Regions from separate parts of the Homo sapiens genome. Here all the other regions are linked to region 3. Evidence: fine-mapped expression QTL. A gene starts in region 3. Each other region holds a variant in brackets. All regions are shown on one strand. Distances are from middle to middle.

Region 1 (2,759 bases), 100 kb before region 3:
CTCTGCTTTTTTTTTTTTTTGAGACGGAATCTCACTCTGTTGTCCAGGCTGGAGTGAAGTGGCATGATCTCAGCTCACTGCAGCCTCTGCCTCCTAGGTTCAAGCGATTCTCCTGCCTCAGCCTCCTGAGTAGCTGAGAATACAGGTGTGCACCACCACACCCGGGTAACTTTGGTATTTTTAGTAGAGATAGGGTTTCACCATGTTGGCCAGGATGGTCTCGATCTCTTGACTTTCAGTGATCTGCCCATCTCAACCTCCCAAAGTGCTGGGATTATAGGCGTGAGCCACCGCGCCCAGACTGTTTTTGTTATTTTCTTAAAAAGGAGACTCACTCAAACATTTCAAAAGCGATATTCCAGATACAAGAGGGGCTGCTGTTACTATTTTAGCAAAATGAGTCAGCTTAGAAAGATGATCCTTCTCCACACAGTCATTAGTGTTACCATCTTGAAGACAGATTATTAAAACAATAAAAATCCCACTATATCTTGCCATGGCCATTCTACCAAAAAAATTCCATTTCAATAGTATTTTTTTAAGGCTTAACAGACACAATTCATTTCACAAATAAAAAAATGCTTGAGCAAATCATAAAGCTATCCCAACTTTTTAAGTAATCAATTAAATTTAAAGCAGCTTCTGATTTTGCACATTTAAAACCATATTCTAAGAATAATTGTTTAACAGATAAGAACTCACAGATCCTTGAGCTGAATGCTTTATGTTAAAAAAAAAAAACTACTGAAGAAATGGTGTACATTTATATAAAGTACATAAGTCTAAAGTTTCAGAAATCCCATCTCTGTTGTCAAGCACAACTTTCCAGAGGCATCACCAATGATAAAGCAGTTTAACTCTGGAAGCATGTTTTAGCACAAGAGGGCAATCACTAAACACACATCTAGCTGCCTTAACATGTAAATCTGATTTCAAAAAAAAAAGAATATCTTCCTTTAAAGAAAAAAGAGAAGTAAATATGACAAATCAATGGAACATTACTGTTCCTTCAAATCAATGACCTTAGTTGTGCAAAGATCAACTGTCTCTCTTGAAATTATTATTCTCCTTGAGATGCGTACATTTAGTAATAAAATCAATTGTGTTAAGACGCACGAATGTGCAATCAGTTAGGTTCCTGAAAACAATCTTCAGTAATGCATTTGATGCAGTTCAGATACTGAGCTATCTGAGGCAAATGCCAGGACTCCCATTATCGCCAGTCATGAGATGTGCTCATCTATGAAAGATGAAGGTAGGCTGCAAAGGGCAGCCCCTTCAGACAGAAGAATGTC[T/G]GGTGATAGCAACTCCTGCCTAATTTTAGAGCCTGACAGGTTTAAAGGAGAATGTTCATAAAAGGGTGTTGAGCTCCCCCTTTTTATCAGAGTTGACAGAGGCCACTTGTGTGGTCTGTGCTACGTGTGCCAAATAAATCTGACAAGGAGCAGAACTGCTCTGAGTCCACAGGCAGCATGCAGAGGAACAAGACATTCCATTACCAAAAGAACTGGACAGTAGGCGGGCAAACTCCGTGCTTCAGTTACCCTGTAACATGAGCATATGAAGAACTTCCTAGGACTTAGAGGGAGGCATTACATGTTTCTGTGCTGTACTAAGGTGAAAAATGCTAGCCTGGCATTAGAAGGTTGTCATCTTGTCTATGTTCCAGGCATTTAACTTTTGGGGAGTAGAGAGGAGTTTAAGAGTCATCTTTGGGCAGAAAATACAGAAGGAAAGTCTATTCCAGACTGCTTTAGTTAGTTTTTCCAAGGATGGCTGGGCATTTTGGTAACACTGGGGATTTAAAAGCTCCCTTAGGATACCTCAATTACAGCAAAGTCAGTCTATTTAAAATCTGTTTTAACTTTTAGTACATTTCTTGAGCACCAACAATGTGCTAAGTGCTATACTGATCATCTCTGCAGAAATTCACCAGCTCTCTAAGGCTCAGCCATCTGTTTTTTGGAATAATACGCCTTTTCCCAGTCTCAAACTGTGAAGCCAAAAGCGAAATAGAAAGTGGAAGTTCTGAATACAAGGAAAGAAGGGCAGTGAAGGAGGCACAGCTGGATCTCGTGCTATGGCACTTTGATGAGTTTATTTGGATTTTAGCAGTAACCTGGTGTTTTGAGGTAGAAAGACACACAGGGCTAGGATGAATAAATCTGACTTGATTGTAGAACATCAAAGCCATCTTCAGTTCCACTGGTCTGATCTCTTTGTAGTTAATGAAGACACACAATCAGACATTTTCATTAAAAGTGAAGGAACCCTGCTACACGCGGAGGCCCAGAGAAAGCAGCGTCTGTTTTGGTACAGGCAGAAACTGCCCTGTAACATGGCTCACTGCAATGGGATTTATGCTGCACATGGAAGGCATATGCTGTGTGTTTTGCTCCTGCATGAGAACCACATGATGAGTCCATCATCAGAGGGTTATGAGTTCTGCATTGTTTGCCTTCAATAAATATTTGTTGAATGAATACAGAATTGCATATTAAATACACACTTTTCTTTTGTTCTCTTCGGCCAGCTCTCTTTTATTGACAATGTGACGTTCAGGCGTTCACTGTGTACTTCTGCAGCGGGTACGGCCGCTCCTTCCGCGGCTGCTGCTTGGTCTTCAGGTTCTCCTCGTGCTTGCTGGGCCAGTGGCGCAGGCGCATGTTTTCTCAGGCCGCAGGTCCAGGGGCTTGTACCTCTTGCCCTTGTAGAATTTCCTGAGGTTTTCTTTGTGTGAGTCTGGTTAATTACGGTGA
Region 2 (2,759 bases), 39 kb before region 3:
TATGGAGACACAACAGATACTAAGATTCAGGATTACTTTTGAAAAAAAAACTTTTCAAGAATTAGGTATAACAGAATTAGGTTCTCAATATAGGATTTAGGGAGATAATCACAAAGAAGCTGGGCATTTTTTCCTTAATCCTTTCTAAAGGGATGATGCATTTTCACAATCTTCATTCTAGAGCACCCTCTGCTGGGAACAGTGCCACAAAGTGTTTGATTTCTTTAGGATTTTTTTTCTCCCCAGATGCTCACAATTCACTTTAAAACAGAGCTTTGTGGGTTTTTGGGTTTTTTTGGTCCAATAGAACCTGACAATTTCTCTCCTGCCATGAAACTGTCCTTCAAGTAAAGCCTCACAGTCTATATTAAATAACTGGCACCTCTGCCCATCAAAGCCCAATGGCAGCTGTTTCATGTTACACCCCAGGGGCACAAGGGAGCTCTTGTTCCTGAGCCCAGCATTTTGGACATGTGCAGGAGGGACTGAATGTGGGAGGCTTCCCGAGGTCCCTGGCTGAAAGTGAGGAGGGCAGTGAACACATCCTGTACCTCCAGAACAGAGTAACCCATGGATATGCCTTCCCCTGGAGCAAGAGGTACCCAGGAAGCTACCAGGAAGACAGCTGGCCTTGAGACATCTTGAAAGGTCCCTGATGAAAAAGGGTGGAGGAAGGAAAGGCAGAGAAGTCTGAATCTCGAGGGAATGCTTCTGGGATCAAAAGCTTTGGGGCAGGCAGGTGGTGCAAAAGGGCAGCCAGAGAGTTTATAACCCACATCAGGGAACAGCAAAGTACAGAGTTTCCTAAAATCGAGGGGATGTCTCTGAAAAAAGGATGGCATAAGGAGAGCTGGAACCTGGACATACATCCTCATTGCAAGCAGCCAAGAGAGGCCAACAATGATAGACCAACAAACAATTCCCAATAAGCAAAACTCCAGTTTCTCTTGTCTTACTCCTCCTCCCTGAGTGGCTACTGGGAAAACTAACAGGGTGAATAGGCAAGGAGAGGGGCTTGGCAAACTTGAGCTGGGTAGAGGGCGAAAGCATGTAAATTGGAGAGAGTGATATTTTGTTCTGGACTGCAATGAACCTTTAATAGCAGTTCCAATAACCAAAAGTGTCCAGAAAGCAAGGAG[T/A]TCTGCCAGGTTGAAGGCAGTCGTCCCGGGAAGACACGCTGTCACAGCGTGACGGAGGGCAACAGTGGGGAAACTAAAGCTGCTTCCTGATTGGAACTTCCTGAGATCTGCCTGATCAAGGCAAGACAGACCTGTCCATGCAGGAAGGCAGAGGAGGTATCTGTGAAGAAGGAAGATGAGTCACGAGGAGACAGCATCTAGGATATAAAGAGAAGTTCTCAGTGAACTTGGACTGCGGCAGCCGAAGGGGAGGTTGACGACAGCAAGCCAGAGAAATCTGCACACGTCCACAAGCACATCCAGTCTCTGCCCACAGGGTTCCTCCACCCACACCCACAAAGCCCGCATCCTGCCCTGTGTCCTGCTTCTCTCACACCCAGCAGCTAAGTTCTCTCCCAGGAGGCTAAGAGATGCTGTGATAAATCCTCCGTCCAGTTTCAGAGCTGAAAAAGCCCTGGAAGAAATAAAGGAAATGACCTTGAACAGATTAAGTGACTTGCCCAAGGCCACAGACCGAACTAGAATAAAAATTTCTGTTCCAGTACAGTCCTCCCACTCTAACACTGGCTCTCTCATCACAGACACTGTAAAAACTGTTATCTAAATACTAGGTTCTATGACTGGACTAAAAGCAAGTACTTTTATAACAAAAGCAACAATTAAATAAAAGCAACAATTGCAGCACATGCCTTTGGTACATGGTTATAAAGAGGACTACAGCTGGGCACAGTGGCTCACGCCTGTAATCCTAGCACTTTGGGAGACCAAGATGGGCGGATCAGAGGTCAGGAGTTTGAGACCACCCTGGCCAACATGGTAAAATCCTGTCTCTACTAAAAATACAAAAATTAGCCAGGCATGGTGGCATGAGCCTGTAATCCCAGCTACTCGGGAGGCTGAGGCAAGAGAATTGCTTGAACTTGGGAAGCGGAGGTTGCAGCGAGCCGAAATCATGCCACGGCACTCCGCCCTGGGTGACAGAGTGGGATTCCATTTATTGCTTTTCTCTAAGATGCAAATCACTAAATAAAGGCTGTTAAGAAATTGCTTCATTTCCAGTGAATAGCCTGAGAGCTAATGTGTCCACCAGCCATGGGTGCTTCTGGCCCAGCTAGTTCTACAGTGCACCTGCTTCTTGGACTCCCCTGGCTTTATCACACTTCTTGAAGGGCACAAGAAATTCCCACCTCAAGATTTTTTTCATGATCCAGATTTTTCTGAGTGAAGACTTGGAACTGGACCATCAATTCAGATTGGACCTGAGGCTTCTGAGGCGTCACAGCAGCAGAACTCTAGAGTTCATGTTTAAGTGACAAGAGTACTCCTCCATGTAGCAAGATGGTCCTTTTGCTCAGAAGATCACATACAGCTGGGTTGGGAAAGGAGGAAGGAAGGAGCACTTACCTAGCCAGCCAGACCTGCCTGACCAGCCATGGTAACTGGTGGGATGACACCAGTCACAACAAGACCACCCAAGTTCTGGAACACTGCTTGAGGGAAGTCTACGCCCACTTCTTGTTTACGGAGCCCACGAGTTTTCTTACAGACTTCCTCTGCGTAATTCACTAAATAGGGCCCTGATCCAATAAAGATCAAATATAAAGGACTCACTTTATATTG
Region 3 (2,759 bases):
TTAAAGTAAACACTTTCTGGCATAAATTGGGAAAGTAAACAGAAAAACATTAAAACTGTATCACACAAATACATACTTATTCTGATTATATTTTAAGTAATCTGAGAAATGTAGCTATTAGTAAGAGAATCACGGCCACAACATGTGGATGCAATCCAGTTCCTAAGTCGTCAAATTCACGTTTACACAAAAAAGGTGTCTGCCCAGAATTCCGCCTACTGGATCTCAACAGTTACCTTGAGTTCATCTGCAGCTTAGGCAAATGGTGGTCAACTCCGCCACTAGACAAAACTTACTCATTCTGAAAAAGGTCAACCCCTCTCCCTTCTAAGACCTCCTCTCACCCTCTCTCAACTCCTTTTCTTGTTTAAGAAAACATGGATCAGCACGGCCACACTATGGGGTCACTGCTCCGCCTTCCCCATTTCTGTCCGGGTCTCTGGCATCCCCAGGGCCCAGTGCGCCTCATCCGACCTGGGACAGGGTAGGCGCTCAACACACCTTTTAAAATCGAACGAATATGCTTCAACTCTAAGGACTTTAAAGTGTAAGTTTTAAAAGTTTGTTTTCGTTTTTAAATGTGACATCACACACACACACACACACACACACACACAAACACACACACACACCCCAGCGGACACTTTCTCCTACCACCATATTTAAGCAAGAGGCTTCGCCAGTCAAAAAAGCAGTGACACCGTCTGTCTTCCCACTCCCTGAAGACACCCATTCTACCCGGGCGTCTGCCCTTGACCCCATTGATTCTAGGAAGCGGCCGGGCGGCGCTGCCCACAGGCTCCGCCGCCAGCACTAGCAGAGTGACCGCCCGCGGGACCCCAGCGCTGCAGAGGAGCCCCGCGCCCCCGGCCCAATTCTCCCAAACAAAGGCCGAGGGGGAGGGGAGGGACGCGGGGGTCGAAGGCCTACAGGAAGAGGAGCTGCGGGTGCCACGGGTCAGGCAGGCTGGGCACCTTTGCCCGGGAGCCCTCTGGGCGGAGGCAGAGATACTTACGGCGGTCTCGTCGCGGTACACGTCGGGGTACTGAAGGGACAGCATGGCCGGGGACAGGCAGGGGGCAGCGTGGAGGGGCGCGGGCTCCGGGAGCGGACCTGAGCTAGCCGGGCTGGCCGCGAGGCGCGGCTGGGGCGCAGGCAGCTGCGGGGCGGCCGGCGGCAGCGGGCGGCCGGCTCACGGCCAGAGCTAGCACAAACGGACTGGCGGCGCGGCGGCGAGGACGTGCAGAAAGCAGGAAGCCGCTGTCTGCGAGGCCGGGAGCCCCTCCCCGGCGGGCGGGCCCAGCGGCGGCGGCGGCGGCAAGAGGGAGCGGGCGGCACCGAGCGTGCGCTAAGGCCGGCGCACAGCTCCCTCTGCAGGATCGCCGGCCGCGCCCGCGCCGCCCGGGCGCACGGAGGAGCACGCCGGCTACGCGCTCGCCCACGCCCGGCCGCCCGCCCGTCCTCTGCGCCGGGGACAAGTCCTTCCACCGAGGCCGGGTCCCCGCGCCTTCCCTAGCGCCCTGCCTCTCTTTGGCCGCGCTCGCAGGACCGCCTGTAGGAGAGTGAAGCCCCAGGGTTTCCTTGCTGATGGAGTCCCCCACCTTCCCCAGCCTTCCTGTTCCCGGGCTGGTTACGGCGGCGAAGGGAGACCTTGCCTCTCCCCAGCCTTGGAAGCAGAGGGCTGGAGGTGGCCTTATGTCCACTGCCTGCGACTCTGGACTTGAAGGGAAGAAGTAATCGATCATGATGACCGTGAAAGAAACACGTCTCCCTTCATCCCAGGACCCCTGGTGGACACTGGGTGGTTTAGCATCCGGACTATGGAGATGCTTTGGAGGTGTTGGCAGGACTACGGTTGAGCCCTTATTTGATATTTACCGATTGAGAAAGAACCAAGATTAAGAGGCCTGGAACTCATCAGGGGTATTTTATTTATCCTGCCTTTTCCTCATTTCCTCTCCTGCTGTCATGCTTGTTTATTGAGCACCTACTGTTTATGGGAAGAAAAGATAATAGACAAGATACTTGACCTCAAACCCATGAAAATTTAATAGTTACATGTCATCATCCTCGGGCCAGCAGCGGTATGTGTTCTGGTCTTGCTTCCTGGACCACCCAGAAGAGACTTTATAGCCCCAGCCATCAGGGGTATAGTGTGTGCCCAGTGTGTTTTCTATCCCTGGCTTCCAAAAAGTCCTGGAAGAAAGAATAGGTGTGACCAGAAAGTCCTTCACCTCCGGAATCTAAGTGGATATGGTAACTATTATAAACTTGTGTCCTCCGTCTCTTTTGTGATATGGTCCCAATTCCATGCCTCACCCTTAGTTCACCATTTCTGTTCATAGTGATGTGTCATAATCATTTTCTGCATCTGATCCCAGATACCCCCTCCTGGGGCAATCTGAGAATCCTCAATTCTGGGAGAACTCACGCTATTGATAACAAACTTTGTGCAAACACGGGGGCATAGCCCACTACAGCCCAGAAGTCCCAATTCCAGTTCCCACCTCGTGCCTTCCCTGGCTGTCACCTGACGCAGGGACTGGCAGGCATTGTCTCCTCCTTCTGCCACTGTGAGGGATTTTTTAAAGAGCAACCCAGGAGCACTTGACCCAGCAGACCCCCTAATGATAATATTAATGCTTATGGAGTGTTTTTTTCAGTGTATCAGGAAACTATCTAGAACTAATGTCCCTATTTTATAGTTAAGGAAAACGGGCTGACTTTTGCCCAGGACTTCACAAAAAGTGAAAAAGTAG

The links. PIP is the estimated chance that this variant, and not a neighbour inherited with it, causes the effect.
Region 1: its variant is fine-mapped to the expression of PREP in atrial appendage (GTEx, PIP above 0.99).
Region 2: its variant is fine-mapped to the expression of PREP in skeletal muscle (GTEx, PIP above 0.99).

The regions. Positions count from the first base shown.
Region 1 is chr6:105,299,895-105,302,653 of GRCh38, forward strand. The region is part of intron 10 of PREP (prolyl endopeptidase); the gene reads right to left. It also overlaps the pseudogene RPL35P3. Among named protein-coding and RNA genes, the nearest start is that of PREP-AS1, 22 kb to the left of the region's middle. The variant T/G (reference allele first, on the strand shown) is at 1,296.
Region 2 is chr6:105,363,111-105,365,869 of GRCh38, forward strand. All of the region lies in intron 6 of PREP (prolyl endopeptidase), which reads right to left. Among named protein-coding and RNA genes, the nearest start is that of PREP, 39 kb to the right of the region's middle. The variant T/A (reference allele first, on the strand shown) is at 1,140.
Region 3 is chr6:105,401,832-105,404,590 of GRCh38, forward strand. PREP (prolyl endopeptidase) reads right to left here and starts at 1,251. Exons shown (of 15, transcript NM_002726.5): 1 at 1,016-1,251. The coding sequence starts at 1,060. RefSeq lists a silencer at 959-1,528.